2 linked regions of the Homo sapiens genome follow. The protein of the gene in region 2 interacts with the protein of the main gene of each other region in a pairwise test. Each region holds a gene or a part of one and is shown on either strand. Other genes may lie near its edges.

Evidence for each region. The genes of interacting proteins can lie anywhere in the genome.
Region 1: the proteins of GTF2A1 (region 2) and NFYA interact in binary tests that used the Homo sapiens proteins (3 or more experiments, as listed by UniProt).

What each region holds. Positions count from the first base shown.
Region 1 is NC_000006.12:41,089,523-41,097,013, reverse strand, and holds part of NFYA (nuclear transcription factor Y subunit alpha), read right to left. Parts: intron 7,436-7,491; coding exon 7,304-7,435; intron 6,811-7,303; coding exon 6,705-6,810; intron 5,487-6,704; coding exon 5,320-5,486; intron 4,103-5,319; coding exon 3,929-4,102; intron 2,619-3,928; coding exon 2,517-2,618; intron 1-2,516. UniProt on the Homo sapiens protein: Component of the sequence-specific heterotrimeric transcription factor (NF-Y) which specifically recognizes a 5'-CCAAT-3' box motif found in the promoters of its target genes.
Region 2 is NC_000014.9:81,189,506-81,196,996, forward strand, and holds part of GTF2A1 (transcription initiation factor IIA subunit 1), read right to left. Parts: intron 6,737-7,491; coding exon 6,603-6,736; intron 3,335-6,602; coding exon 3,014-3,334; intron 1-3,013. UniProt on the Homo sapiens protein: TFIIA is a component of the transcription machinery of RNA polymerase II and plays an important role in transcriptional activation. TFIIA in a complex with TBP mediates transcriptional activity.

The sequences.
Region 1 (7,491 bases), on a different chromosome or scaffold from region 2:
CCATGTCATGCTGTATTTTTGTCACTGTTTTTTGATCATCATTTAAATACTGAGTACTTAGCAGGGCTAGAAAGAATCATTAGAATCTATACACTTTAATGTACTCGTTTTACAGATAAATCTGAAGGCCAGATGGGTAAAGTGATTTGCGTGGACTAGGGTCAGGGTCAGAAAGTTAGGAGTCCAGCAAGGGCTAACTCCCAAATCTCCTGACTCCCATTTCATCTTCTTTCCACTAAACTCTATATGCTGTTTCTCACTTAAGACCTACCGTGTTAACACAAGGATAAATCCTTGGAAGCTTTTTGCAACACTCCGCAAGAACCACCTTTAGTTCCCCCATACCAAGGCTCTGAAGCCTTGGTAGGCAGGATCTGAGAAAAAGCTGAAAGCCTTCTGGAGATGGAAGACTGGAACTGGGTCTTGAACAATGAGCAAAAACAACTAGCATTTACTGAACTCACCATGCACTAGGTATGGTGCTACACAGATGCCTAATGTGGATTACTGAATGAAATCCCTACAACATTGCTGTGAAGTATCAACAGTATTCCACTTTACAGATAAAAATAAAAGAGGCTGAATTGACCAAGATCATATTGTTAGCACACAGAATGAGGAGAGTTCCTGGCACAATGCCCTCCTGCCACAATAGCTGTCAGGCCCACATTCATACACCGTTATGAATGAATAGCAATGAGAAAGGAGGGGCTCTCACACTACAGGTGAGGATTAATAGCACTGAAAGAGTTGTTAGTGTTCATGTGTGGGGACACTGAGGAAACCTAGTTTGATTGTTGAGGGGGTGATAAGGCAAAGTTGCTTAGATGTTATACAGAAATAGTTTGAGATTTGATGCAGTTAAGAAATGAGAACTATTAATAGCATGCATCCTTGACCTGGGGACTGGCAGGTTAAAAAAAACACTTTAACCATGTACTGTATAAGTACTATATAAGGCCAATTAGAGGAGACTGGAGATTAATTTGATGGATATTGCAATAGTGCAAGTGGAATGTGATGTTAATATAGAATGGAGTATCAGCAAATGGGAGGAATCTATTAATTCAAGAAACACTGATTGCTTGGTTCAGAACTGGATACTAAACCCAACAAATACATCTAAGTCAGTACTTAAATACAACTTACTTAAATAGAATTAAGTCCAATAAATATAACAGAGAACGAAACAATCCTCTACCCTCTATACAACTTACAGTCTAGTGAAGGAAACAATCTTGAAAAATTCAACAACTTAAATATTATTACACTGTAAAGAAAAGGGCCAAGTGCAATGGTGTGCGCCTGTAATCCTAGCACTTTGGGAGGCCAAGGCGAGAGGATCGCTTGAGCCTAGGAGTTTGAGACCTGCCTGGGCAACAAAGTGAGACTCCATTTCTACAAAAAATTTAAAAATTAGCTGGGCATGGTGGTGCGTGGCTATAGTCCCAGCTACTCGGGAGCCTAAAGTGGGAGGATCACTTGAGCTGGGAGGTCAAGACTAAAGTGAGCCATAATCACACCACTGCCTCCAAAAAAAGAAAAGATGTTGTAAGAACATACTGAGAGAGAAGAGATCTATTCTAGATAGGGTATTTAATTAAACCCAGACCTAACAGATAGGGAGATAGACATGCATGAAAAAGATAAAGGGCATACAGACTGAAAATTCTAAGGACAAAGACCCGTGGCAGGAAGTAGACCAATGAACAGTAAACAGCAGCATAGAGACCAAGAAGTAGAAATGCAGTTAGAGGTAGACAGGAGCTGGAGCATGTAAGGCTTTGCTGGGCATAGTAGTAAGCACTTTGGATGTCAGTCTAAGTGCAAATGGGAAAGGGTAGGGGTTGAAGGAGCTTGAGCAGAACAGGGACTTGATAGGATAAACATTTTAAAAAGATCACACTAGGATGTGGAGAGTAGGCTAGAGGGGAACAAAAGTGGAAGAAGGGAAACCAAATTAAGCAGCTATTTTATAAATCTAAGCCAAAGAAGAGAGGATTAGACCAGGCTCACATCAGTTAGAAGGGAAAAAAGTAAACATTCAAATTATATTTGTGATGGGGTAATAAAACCTGTTCAATAAAAATAAAACTTGTTCCTTGAAAATTAAGAAAAGTGTGATTTTCAAGAAAGAATGAATAGTAATAAGTGACAAAGACGAAGAGCATCTCAACCCTCCAAGTAGCTGGGACTACAGGCATGCATCACCAGGCCTGGCTAGTTTTTGTATTTTTTTGTAGAGATGGAGTTTTGCCATGTTGCCCAGGCTGGTCTTGAAATCCTGGGCTTCCCACCTCAGCCTCCCAAAGTGTTGGGATTACAGGCATGAGCCACCAAGTCTGGCCTAGTGGTTTTAAGATAAAAGATAATCTAAAGAGACATAAGATTGCATCCAGTTTAGAGAATGTGAGTAGTCCCAGAGTAGGAAAATAGCAAGAGGACACTGCTGAAGGCTTCAACTCAAGTCAATACAAGGTAATAAAGAGAAGAATAAAATGTATATGTCTTCCTACCTGCATATGGGGACTATCCTTTTCCTTTGGAGAGAAAAATCGTCCACCTTCACCACGCTTCCGTGCCATGGCATGACGGTGCCGAGACTCATGCAGGTATTTCTAAAACGAGAAATAAAACCATTTAACTATTAATACTATCCAGAACCAGCACAGTTATCTAGTGCACAAATTCCATTCTCCAAAGTTTAAGACAGCTGGGATCAAAGTCACAAGGGACAATTATGACTTAGAATGACGATGGAAGCTTTGGAGAAAACACCTAGTAAGTAATATAGCTAACCATATATAACTACTGTAAGACTGTGAATGCTTATAGTATGAATTTTTTTTAAAAAAAATAACAGACTACCACCTACACTTCACAATATATACACTTTCCTCTGCTTTAATAACAGGCCAAATTTCGTTTGAGCAAATGAGTGTTCAGTAAAAAGACTTTCCTAGCATTAAAGTTTATTATTATTATTTTCTAGAAACAGGGTTTCACTCTGACACCCTTGCTGTTGGACTGCAGTGGCATGATCATGAATCACTGCAGCCTTGAATTCCTCGGCTCATGTGATCCTCCTGCCTCTGCCTTCCAAGTAGGACTACAGGCATTTGCCACCACACCAGGCTGGACTTTCCTAGCCTTATCTGCATGTTAGGTGTGATCAGGTAACTAAATTCCGGCTAGTGGAAGGTACACAACTTCTTCAAAGTTTCCTTGAAAGAAAGGGTACCTGGCCGGGTATGGTGGCTCACGCCTATAATCCCGGCACTTTGGGAGGCCCAGGCAGGTGGATCACCTGAGGTCAGGAGTTCGAGACCAGCCTGGCCAACATGGTGAAACCCCGTCTCTACTAAAAACACAAAAATAAGCTGGGCGTGGTGGCGCACACCTGTAATCCCAGCTACTCAGGAGGCTGAGGCAGGAGAATCACTTGAACATGGAAGGTGCAGGTTGCAGTGAGCTGAGATTGTGCCACTGCACTCCGGCCTGGATGACAGAGCAAGACTGAGTCTCAGGAAAAAAAAAAAAAAGAAAGGGTACCTTTCTTGTTCCCTTTCTTCCTAGGCTGGAGCCTAAGCAGGAATCTTGGACCATGAACAGCACACTAGCAATATTAAAGCAGTGAAACAGGTCTTGAGAACTGTGAAAATGTGCTACCAGTCCAGGATAATTTATCTCTGGACTACTTTTATGTATGAAAAGGAATAACATCTTATTTAAGCCACTGTTTGTTTTCGTTATTATAACTGCAGCTGCATATTAGTAATAACAAATGCTAACTCTTACAAAAGAGACAACAAGTATCTAACGTCAATTGTTTGGAAGGTACGTGAGAAAACAAGCCATATAAAAGATAATTTCAAAAGTAGAACCCTGCTATTCTCCTTTCCTATATCCTTCCCAATGTTATACATACCCTTCTCTCCTTTGGAATTTTCCCTTCTGCCTCTAGTTTAGCTCGGGCTTGCCTCCTCTTAAGAATACGGTGGTATTGTTTGGCATTCACGTAGAGAGGCTCTTCTTCAAGCATCTCTGCTCCAGGTAGAGGGATTCTTTGGATAGCAGGCACAGAGCCAGCCCCAGGAACCATCTGTGTGAACAGGAAACCAGAGCTTATTGGTGGCATGAAGTATGGACATAGAAACAGTTTCTTGGTTCCTCTTCATCCATTTTTTTTGTAAATGCCACAAAAAGTAATTTTTATAGGGTACTTGGGTAAATGCGGATCCCTGGAGAAATTTATACTAAAGATCTGCACTTTAAACAAACACCCCAGATGACTGTGTCATAGGAGATTCAGGTGCCACTCTGAGAAACTATATAACCATGCCCTAATTCATGTCCACCCATGGCTCTAGATATTTCTGCTGCCATCTAATGGTCAGGAACAGTAGTCATAAGACAAAAAAACAGCACAAAAATAGATAGACCAAGTGCTACTAAATGCCTATATTTATAAAAATAATAGTTAACTTATAATTCAATCCTAATTTTTCTTAAAAAACACCAAAACACTGTACTAAATGTAGGTAAAAACAAGTAACAGAGTCCTGTACCCCACAGCTCTTTCCCAAATACAACCGCTTTGAATAACTGTATTGAATCTTTTATAAAAATTATTTATTTTTCATTCAATTCGTAGAAACGAGGTCTCTCTACATTGCCCAGGCTGAGCTCAAACTCCTGGACTTAAGCCATCCTCCTGGATTAGCCTCCCAAGTAGCTAGGACTACAGGTGCATGCCACTGAGCCAGGGTTGGTTCTGTTTCTTTTCATAGCTTCCTCCACCTCTGTGCAGACTTCTGTTACTCATTCTTAATTTATGCATTTTAACATCCTATTTTGACATATGAGGATTTAGCTTTCAGTTACACCACCCAAATCTTCCTATCTTCCCAATACATTTACATGACACTTTTTTTTTGGTTTCTCTATCAATTACAATCTTTCTAATTTTTAGCTTATTTCTTATTTTGTCCATCATGGGCAATACTACTTTCCACTTCTCAAAGATTAGTATATAATTCCCTTCGTTATTTGAATTCTGAAAAGAATTCCATAAAATCACTATTTATCCATTGCTTTATCTCCAGCATCTAGAATAGTCCCTGGTGAATAGTCCCTGGCACATAGTAGGTGCTCAGAATGAATTATGGTTTGTCATAATGTTATTGTCAAAGTAGATTACCGACAGTGCCTTAAGGATCGATCTCAATCCCAAGAGGTCAACATAATAAATTTTAGGAGGCATCAAGTTGCATGTTCAAGAAAATTTCAAAGACAAAGCTGAAAAATACATTTTCTTACCATGACCATCCCTCCTGAATTGACCACATTGCCTGCCACTGGTAGTGTCACAGTGACAGTCCCTTGCCCACTGCTGGTTGTGTTGGTATTGGCTCCTGTTTGAACAATCTGTGCTCCTGCCAAACTGGCTGCTGGGATAGTGATCATGCCTGAAACAGGGACTGTAACTTTAAGAAAACAAAACATAAAACAAACAAAAAACAGGCACACAGAACAGAAAGAAGGGAACATAGTTAGTCCCTCTTCTATCTGGTATACACTCACCGATCCTGGCAAAACACACTGAAAAACACAAGGGGAGAAAAAGTACTCTCCCACTGTGGTGTGCTATATATAATCTAAGTAATCACAATCTTTGAAATTCTATTAACTGTCTAGGTCCCAGTTTTGAGTAACTCTATCCTTAGCAGTTTTCAAAAGGTGAAAAGGTTTGGAGGCCTCCTCTTCTACAGGTCAGTCTGACTACAGCTATACCTACTGCTCTTGTACATAATGAGCAATCTGCTTCAGGACAGAGATTTTAAAACTTATACTTTGTTTATCTCAAACTGACAATGAGTCAGTTGTAGTATTAAAACTTAAAATTAAACCAAGCATTCCAAGTCCCCAGACTATCAATAGCAGCACTTGAGGATTTGTTCACCATTCTGTTTGAGCTCTTGCCTGGGCTCAATCCAGTTCAGGGCCTCCCTGGAGTAATACAAGAGCACACAGTTAGTGCACTCTCTGGATCCTGTATATTGCAAATTTGCAATCACAAAGTCATGGAATCTAACAAAGATGTCCTTTTTTGATTTAACTATTTGACTAACAGGTGCTTCCAAAAGCCTTCAAGTTCAGTTTCTGCACTCCTCCTCCCAGACCAAACATCTATTATTTATGTTATCTATTCCTAGAACATACTTCCATGAGGGCCCTGCATTGTATTTATTTGTTCACGTCTTTCTTACTAGACTAGAGGCTCTTTGAGGACCCTTCTTAGTAAAAGTGCTGTATACATAATAGTCATTTAAAGTAATGGAATGACCCAGAAAAAAACATAAGCAGCAATAGCACTCTAAAGCCAACTTGATTTTTGATCTATTTCTCTCTTTACCAATGAACTCCCTATTTCTATTCTTCTGTTTAGAAACACTTCTTCCCTAAAAGCTTACACAATCCCTAGATTAGCAACCACTATAGAAACTGCTACACATGGAATCACTGTTGGTCACAGATGGTGACAAGAAACCAACAATCAATGGAGAGCTAGAGGAAATCTTTTTTTTTTTTGTCCAAAAAATATGTAGTGTCAAGTTCACCACTCAAATTCTAAAGATGTCAGTTGTCTAAGGGACAAAAAAGTTGCCCCAAAAAGTCCTAGGGAAGCTTATGGGTACACTTACCTTGCTGGAGAATGGTGCCATCTGCATTAACTGGTTGATAGACGATGGTCTGCCCTTCAGCAGTCTGTGCCACTTGCTGTCCCTGGACAGCAATCTGCTGCTGTGTCTGGAGGAAATAAGTAATGACACAATTCAACAGATCCCAAAGATACTAACAAAGAACGATGTAGTCCTTAAAAAAAAAAATTATTTTTTTGAGACAGAGTCTCACTCTGTCGCCAGGCTGGAGTGCAGTGCAGTGGCGCAATCTCAGCTCACTGCAACCTCCGCCTCCTGGGTTCAAGCGATTCTCTGCCTCAGCCTCCCGAGTAGCTGGGATTACAGGCATGCGCCACCATGCCCACCTAATTTTTGTATTTTGACGGGGCTTCACCATGTTGGCCAGGATGTTCTTGATCTCTTGACCTTGTGATCAGCTTGCCTCGGCCTCTCAAAGTGCTGGGATTACAGGCATGAGCCACCGCGCCCGGCCAAAAATATATTTTTTTATGGTTTTCATCCCCTTTTCTACTATACATGCTATACATGAAATATCTGACTCAGTTATCTGACTCTTCCAAATCAGTTTTGCTCCTGTGTGACAGAGCTAGTGGAATTACCTGAGTCTGGCCAGCAGTGACAGCCGTCTGGGGCTGCTGGATGATGATCTGCTGGGTCTGGCCCTGCTGGCCCTGCACCTGCACAGCCTGTCCACCCTGGATCTGGATCTGTCCAGGTGGGACCAACTGTATCTGCAGAAAAGAACATAAAAAAAGGATTGTACTCTACTGACACTGGTCTCCTTTGG
Region 2 (7,491 bases):
CTAAAAATACAAAAAATTAGCCGGGCGAGGTGGCGGGCACCTCTAGTCCCAGCTACTCAGGAGGCTGAGGCAGGAGAATGGCGTAAACCCGGGGGATGGAGCATGCAGTGAGCAGAGATAGTGCCACTGCACTCCAGCTTGGGTGACAGAGCGAGACTCCATCTCAAAAAAAAAATGGATCAAGCACACAAAAAATATCAAGGATACATAAAGAGCATCTGAGCAAACCTACTGACAATATAAATCTAACAGACACATACAAATACCAAACAAGTGCAGAAAACACATTCTTTTCAAAGCATATACAAAAACTGACCAAATCAAGCAAGTCTCAAGCAATTTCAAAAGATTCACACATCACACAGATCATATTCTCTACAAACAAAACAGTTAAGTCAGAAAAGAATAGAATGGGAAAAACACACTAGAGAGAATAAAGCTAAAAGTTTACTCTTTGAAAACATTAATAAAATCAACACATCCCTGGTAAGACTGAACAGGGAAAAAAAAAGATGGCACAATAATTATATTAGGAATGAAGATGACAAAGGATTCTGGCATCAAAAAGACAATATCATGATTAACTTCATGTTAATCAACTTGAAAATTTAGATAAATATATAGAGAGTCCTAGAAAAATATAACTTATCAAAACGGTCTCAAACAGAAACAAAATACTTGAAGGGCATGAGATTACTAGACCCAGGTATCTGTAGTGTCATGTTTTAACAAATATCAACAGAAGAATTAAATACAATCTTTGAAAAAAAAAAAAGAGTTCAAAATACAGGAAACATGTCCCCAAATTCATTTAACAAAGCTACCATAACTGAAAACCTTGTAAGAAGAGTATGAGAACAGAAAATCACACAGTATCTATCAATCATAAATATCTACAAAAAAGTCCTCAACAAAATGAATTCAGCAATTTATAAAAAGAGAAATATAAAATGATCAAGTTGTGCTATCCCAGGAGTACAAGATTGGTTTACAAATAGAAAATCAATTAATGAAATCCATTATAAATAACATTACGTGAGAAATTATACAAATCATTGCAGAAAAGGTGTTTAATTAAATGCAACATTCACTTACAGTTTAAAAAACAAAGCAATGCAAAGAAGGGAATTTACTTAACCTGATGAAGATATCCATTAAAAAAAAAGAAAACCCACAACAAACATTAAACTTAACAGTGAAGCATGGAAAAGATTACTTTTCAGTTTAAGAAGAAGAGAAGAGTGCCTGCTATCACCACTTCTAATCAATACTGTTCCCGAAGGCTTAGCCAATGAGCCACAAAAAACTGCCGTTCTTCATATAAGATGTGAAAGTCTACACAGAAGATACAAAAGAATCTACAGATACATTATGAGGACTAACAAAAGACATTAGGACGGTGGCTGGTTCAAGGATGAATATTAAAAGCGCTACATATTTCCATCCTACCAATAAACTGGAAAAGGTAATAAAAACATGTTACTTCAAGAAGCACTGAAACTATGAAGAATTTAGGGGGAGGAAACGGGCAAGAGACCTCAATAAGCACTTCTATACAAAACACAAATATCAAATAAATATACAAAAAGAGGCTAAAACTCCTAAGTGAGGAAATGCAAACTAAAACCAAAATGAAATAATACTATTTTCTACCTACCAGACCAGCAAAAATCAGGAAGCCTGACACTATCAGGTATTGATAAGGGGGTATGGACATCTGCACAATTATGTATTGAATGGCAGAAGTGATTTGGCATTTTATTATAAAGTTGCAGATGTGCATGACTTAGGAGCCAGAAGTTCAATGTTCGGTATAAAATTTAGAGAACCTCTTGCATTTGTGTCCCCAGAAGACATACACTACAATATTTTATAACTGTTTGTAACAGTAAACAACAAGAAACAATCCTTATGTCCACTGGATTAGAAAAATTGACAAATAAAATTATGGTATATTCAGCAATGAAAATAATTATAGCTATATGCAACAACTTGGATAAACCTCAGGAATATCATTTTAAGGGGAAAAAACCAACTTGCAGAAGAATACGTAATTACTTCATTTACGTTGTAAACATGCAAAACTAAACAATATGCTATTTAGGAATATAAATATATATGGTAAAATATAAAAGCAATTAATAATCAACACAAATGTATGAGCAAAGGTACTTTGATGGCCTAGGAATGATGGGATTAGGGAGAGGCATCTAAGGCACTTTAAATAATGGAATTTTATTTTAACTAGATGGTGGGCACCAGGATGATTTTTATCTTGAAACATTTCTATTCATTTGTGTCTATTCAATATTCAATAATAAACTATGTTTTCTTCAGAAAAAAAATTACTTAGATAATTTAGAAGAACTTTGTACTAAGAAACAAAAAGACTGCATTTTAGGCTAACGAAGGCAATTAACAGTGAAAATTGTGGTGGGACAAATAGTTTTTGGAGCCTAGTAACTAAGCTGAAATAGTGAGGAAAACAAAGGCATATTTATATGCTTCTAGAAGAACACAGACATTAAGGGTACATAGGTTTTTAAGGAAGTGGTATAGAACATGGACCAAAAGGTTTTAAATATTTAATAAATTTGTGACATTTGGTTCTTGAGTTTGCTCTCTCCCCAAATGTTGCCACGCTTTTTAAATTACTGAAGCAAAAGATTAACCACATCTATTTATCTACCAATGTCTTATGTTTAAGCCACATTATAAATGCGTAAGCCAGAGTTAGAATTACCTGTACTCTTTACTACACATATTAATACAATTTAATTTGTTATACATTTTTTATTACCAGCTATATGAAAGTTATATTTTATGAAGATAAATATAGCCAGAATATAAAAACCTTACTAAAGTTAAAACAATCTAACTTTATCTTTAAAATCTTATGTTGTACAGCACCTAACAGTCTCTGAAAAAAACAGGATATAATTTATCAGTGTTGTACCAACTAAAAAAGGAAATAATCAAGTAGATTATTTTAAGTATGTTACTAGAAACTTACTTCTTCCACCTGCCCATCTTCAGCTCCATCTTTCTCTTTGTCTTCCTCCTCATCATCATCATAGTCTTCTTCTTCATCTTCATCTTCTTCAGATGATGTATCCCCAGTTCCATCAACTTGTAAGACCAATGGAGCTTGTGTTTGAGCAGGCTGGGCCTGCGGTTGCTGCTGGCCAGTTGCAGTTATCTGTGCTTGGGCTGGTGTAGGTGCTGCCACTGTCGTAGGTATAACTTGAGTCTTATTTCCTGTAAATAAGATTTGCTGAGGCTGGATGATGACACCTGTCTGTGGTGAAATCCCTCCAGGAAGAGGAGCCAGCACCTAAAGCAAAAGAAAACCACATAACAGTAACTAGTTAAGAGGATCAAGTATGGTACACAGAAATAGAAACAAATGCTTAAGATTCACCAGAATGGCCATATTTCATACACAGTTAAAAACTACCAAAGTACAAAAGCAATTAGTTTAACTAGTGTAGTGACCCATTAAATTTCTATTTTATCAAATTTCTAGAAAATAAGGATTTTCTAAAGATAACTGCTTCATTTATTGAGCACATACTATGTATATGCCAGCTACCAGGACAAAAGTTATACACTGCCTTCACATGAAGAACACTGGACTGAGAATCTGAAAACCTGGGTCTACCTTTTTTTTTTTTTTTTATAGATGGAGTCTCGTTCTGTCACCCAGGCTGGAGTGCAATGGTGTGATCTCGGCTCACTGCAACCCCTGCCTCCTGGGTTCAAGCAATTCTCCCACCTCAGCCTCCTGAGTAGCTGGGACTACAGGTGCGCGCCACCATGCCCGGCTAATTTTGTTATTTTTAGCAGAGACGGGGTTTTGCCATGTTGGTCAGGCTGGTCTCGAACTCACGACCTCATGATCCGCCCGCCTCCCAAAGTGCTGGGATTACAGGCGTGAGCCACAACGCCTGGCCAACCTGGGTCTACTTTTGTCTAAAGTCAGACATAAATACAGCAGACGCAAGTCATTTAACTCCTCTTGGCCTCTGTCGTTTCACTGTCAAACTAGGCTTAATGGTTCTCAATCCTGGCTGCAAATATGAACCACCTGGCAACTTAAAAAGTACTGATACCTTGGCCATACCCCTAATATTCTGACTCAGTGTGAGATAAAAGCTAATTATTTTTCTAAAAACCACCAGATCAGATTTCTGAAGTTCCTTTCCAGGTTCTGCATCTAGGATTCTAAAGTAAGCCACAACTTGAAAAAATATATACTAACAAATATTAACTATATGTATTATAATAAAGGAGGAGGACTAGATGCTTGTTACTTGCCATTAGGTTCAAGGAATGCAAAAATAAGACACAGTATTTCCTTTAAAATGCTTACACGTGGTGTAACAACACAAAAGACAAAAAAATGGTATAATAGACAAAGCACTAACAACTCAAAAACACAGCAGATGTAGTACAAATATGACACAGTGTTATGGGAACACAAGAGAGTGTACCAAATTCAACTTAGGGGACAAAGCATGATCAAATATTACTTATATTATTAGTAAGTAGTTTCTGTTTGTGCTTAAAGGCAGCGGTCCCCAACCCCTGTTAGAAACTGGGCTGCACAGCAGGAGGTGAGTGGTGGATGAGCCAGCATCACCACCTGAACTCTGCTTCCTGTCAGATCAGCAGCAGCATGAGATTCTCATAGGAGCAGGAACCCTACTGTGAACTGCACATGCAAGGATGGAGGTTGTGCACTCCTTATGCCTGATGACCTGAATTAAAAGTTTCACCCCGAAACCATCCCTGCTGCCCAGTACATGGAAAAATTGTCTTCTGCAAAAACCAGTCCCTGGTGTCAAAAAGCTAAGAGACTGCTGCTTTAAGGAGATTAGCCAGGTTTTTCTATTTGTTTGGGGGAAGTGCAGGGAGTTGCCAGACGGCATTCTTAAGAGAAGTGTAACATCAAGTGAAACCCAGAAGTGACAGCAGTACATAATTTTGGAAAGATGTAAATAAACTGGATTAATAGTACTGCTCTGATCTTGTCTCTATCATAATACTATTTTACTGACATTTAAAAAAGAGACAGACACATAAACATATAAAGTACATAAGTTCCTCAAGAAAATAACCATTCCTCTTTCATTTTAGTGCCACAGCACAAGAATATAACACAAGTAGATCCAAGTGTTTATTTTGATGTAAATGCAGCTAAAGAAAATAACTGGGAGCATGGCAAGAAATAAACCTGGAGAGTTCAAAGAAACAAGATCCACAAAAAGATTTTATAAACCATGTTGAGTTGTTTAGGCTCTTCTCAGTAGGCAATGAAAAGCTGTTAAAAGTTTTAGGATTTTTAGAAAGATAGGCCAGGCACAGTGGCTCACGCCCATAATCCCAGCACTTTGGGAGGCAAAAGCGGGCAGATCACCTGAAGTCAGGAGTTCAAGTCCAACCTAGACATGGTGAAACTCTGTCTCTATTAAAAATACAAAAATTAGCTGGGCACAGTGGTGCGTGCCACTAATCCCAGCTACTCAGGAGGCTGAGGCAGGAGAATCACTTGAACCCAGGAGGCGGGAGTTGCAGTGAGCTGAGATTGCGCCATTGCACTCCACCCTAGGTGACAGAGACTCTGTCTCAAAAAAAAAAAAAAAAAAAGATGACTATAAATCAGCCAGGTTAGGAGGGCAAAAGATGAGAGGCAGAGAAACCATTAAGAAGACAATGCAGCATTTTAGTGACAAATCATGGACAGTATGAACTAAGGAAATGAAAAAAGAGGCTGAGAAAAAAACAGTGTCAAACATATTAAGGGACTGCAACCATGGCAAAACTGCAGTTAAAGAAAAAAAAAAGGCCGGGCGCAGTGGCTCACACCTGTAATCCCAGCACTTTGGGAGGCCGAGGCGGGTGGATCACAAGGTAAGGAGATAGAAACCATCCTAGCTAACACGGTGAAACCCCATCTCTACTAAAAATACAAAAGTTAGCCAAGTGTGGTGGTGGGCGCCTGTAGTCCCAGCTACTTGGGAGGCTGAGGCAGGAGAATGGCATGAACCCAGCAAGCAGAGGTTGCAGTGAGCTGAGATCGCGCCACTGCACTCCAGCCTGGGTGAAAGAGCAAGACTCTGTCTCGAAAAAAAAAAAAAAAAGAAAAGAAAAACTATTAACAAGAATTGGTAGGGCTTGATACCTTGGGTATTAGAGGTAAGGAAAAGGGAGGATTCTACACACCCACTTCCAGTAAGCATCATAAAACTAGAGTCATGTCTGTGTCATTCACTCCTAAATCCCCTGACCCTTGTGAATACCCCGAGACTCAGTAACTGCTTATTGAATAAAGGCTGAATGACCAGCTTAGGAAGCTGGAAGGAGAGTGCTGCCACCTTCGAGGGGATGATGAAGGATGGGCAGAGACAACAGTAATTGTTTAATACATGTTTAATACATGCTGAATCTAAGTTAAGCTGTATACAGGAGAAATTTGAAACAACTGGGTCTGTAGCACTGAAAAAGAGTCTTTTGTGCATATAAGGAGAGGGAAACTACCCAGGGAATACATACAGAATAAAACAGAACCCCATACTGATCATAATAGAAGATTATTTTACCTGCTGTATAACAGGAGCTTGTACTCCACCAGGCTGCATTTGTGGTATAACCTGTTGTTGTAGAACCACTGACTGCTGAGGCTGAAAGATATATTGGGCACCATTGGCTGCTCTGACCACCTGAAGAAGCTGGCCTAAAGCAAAAAGCATGCATTCCGAGTTATCATTTTAGCAGTGACCATCTCAAAAGAAATGAATTCATATTTAATTTCATACCACCAAAGGCACAAGAAATTATCAAGAAAACTAACAATTTTATTAAAGGTTGTCATTCATACACAGTATGCATAATCCTCCCCTTCTCTGACTTCTCGCCATGTTCAAATACATTCCTTAAAATGTTTTATTTTTCATATTTACATCCTCATTCAGCTATTTCCAACAAGGTTTTAACAACAGATTATGAGACTTGACTAAAGCTTACATTATCTTTGCTAACCTTAGGAGTGAAGAAAGAGCAGTAAGATCAGACACTTCGGGAGCTGTTCATTTTTAAAGCTTTAAAGGAACAAAAGCTTAATAGCTCATTTAATATCTTGAACCAAACAAAGCACCAAAGAACTTTGCTTCAAAATTGGTAAAAGCAATAAAAGTTCACAGAACCAGTTATCATCATTGTCATACAATTCACACAGAATCAAATTCCCCCAATATGTTCCTTTAGACAACCCAGAATCTTGAATTGATTAAAAAGCAAATTACATCTTATTAAAATATGTAGCAAGACAAGCCCCTAATTTCACAAATTTACAAATTAACAAAAATAACATACACAGAATAGAAAATAAATAATAACTATATAATCAAGATTATAGGGAACACTTAAAATCCATGTAAATAAATTTTTCAAGCACCAATATGCCAAAACACATGAGCTAGACATTGGTCT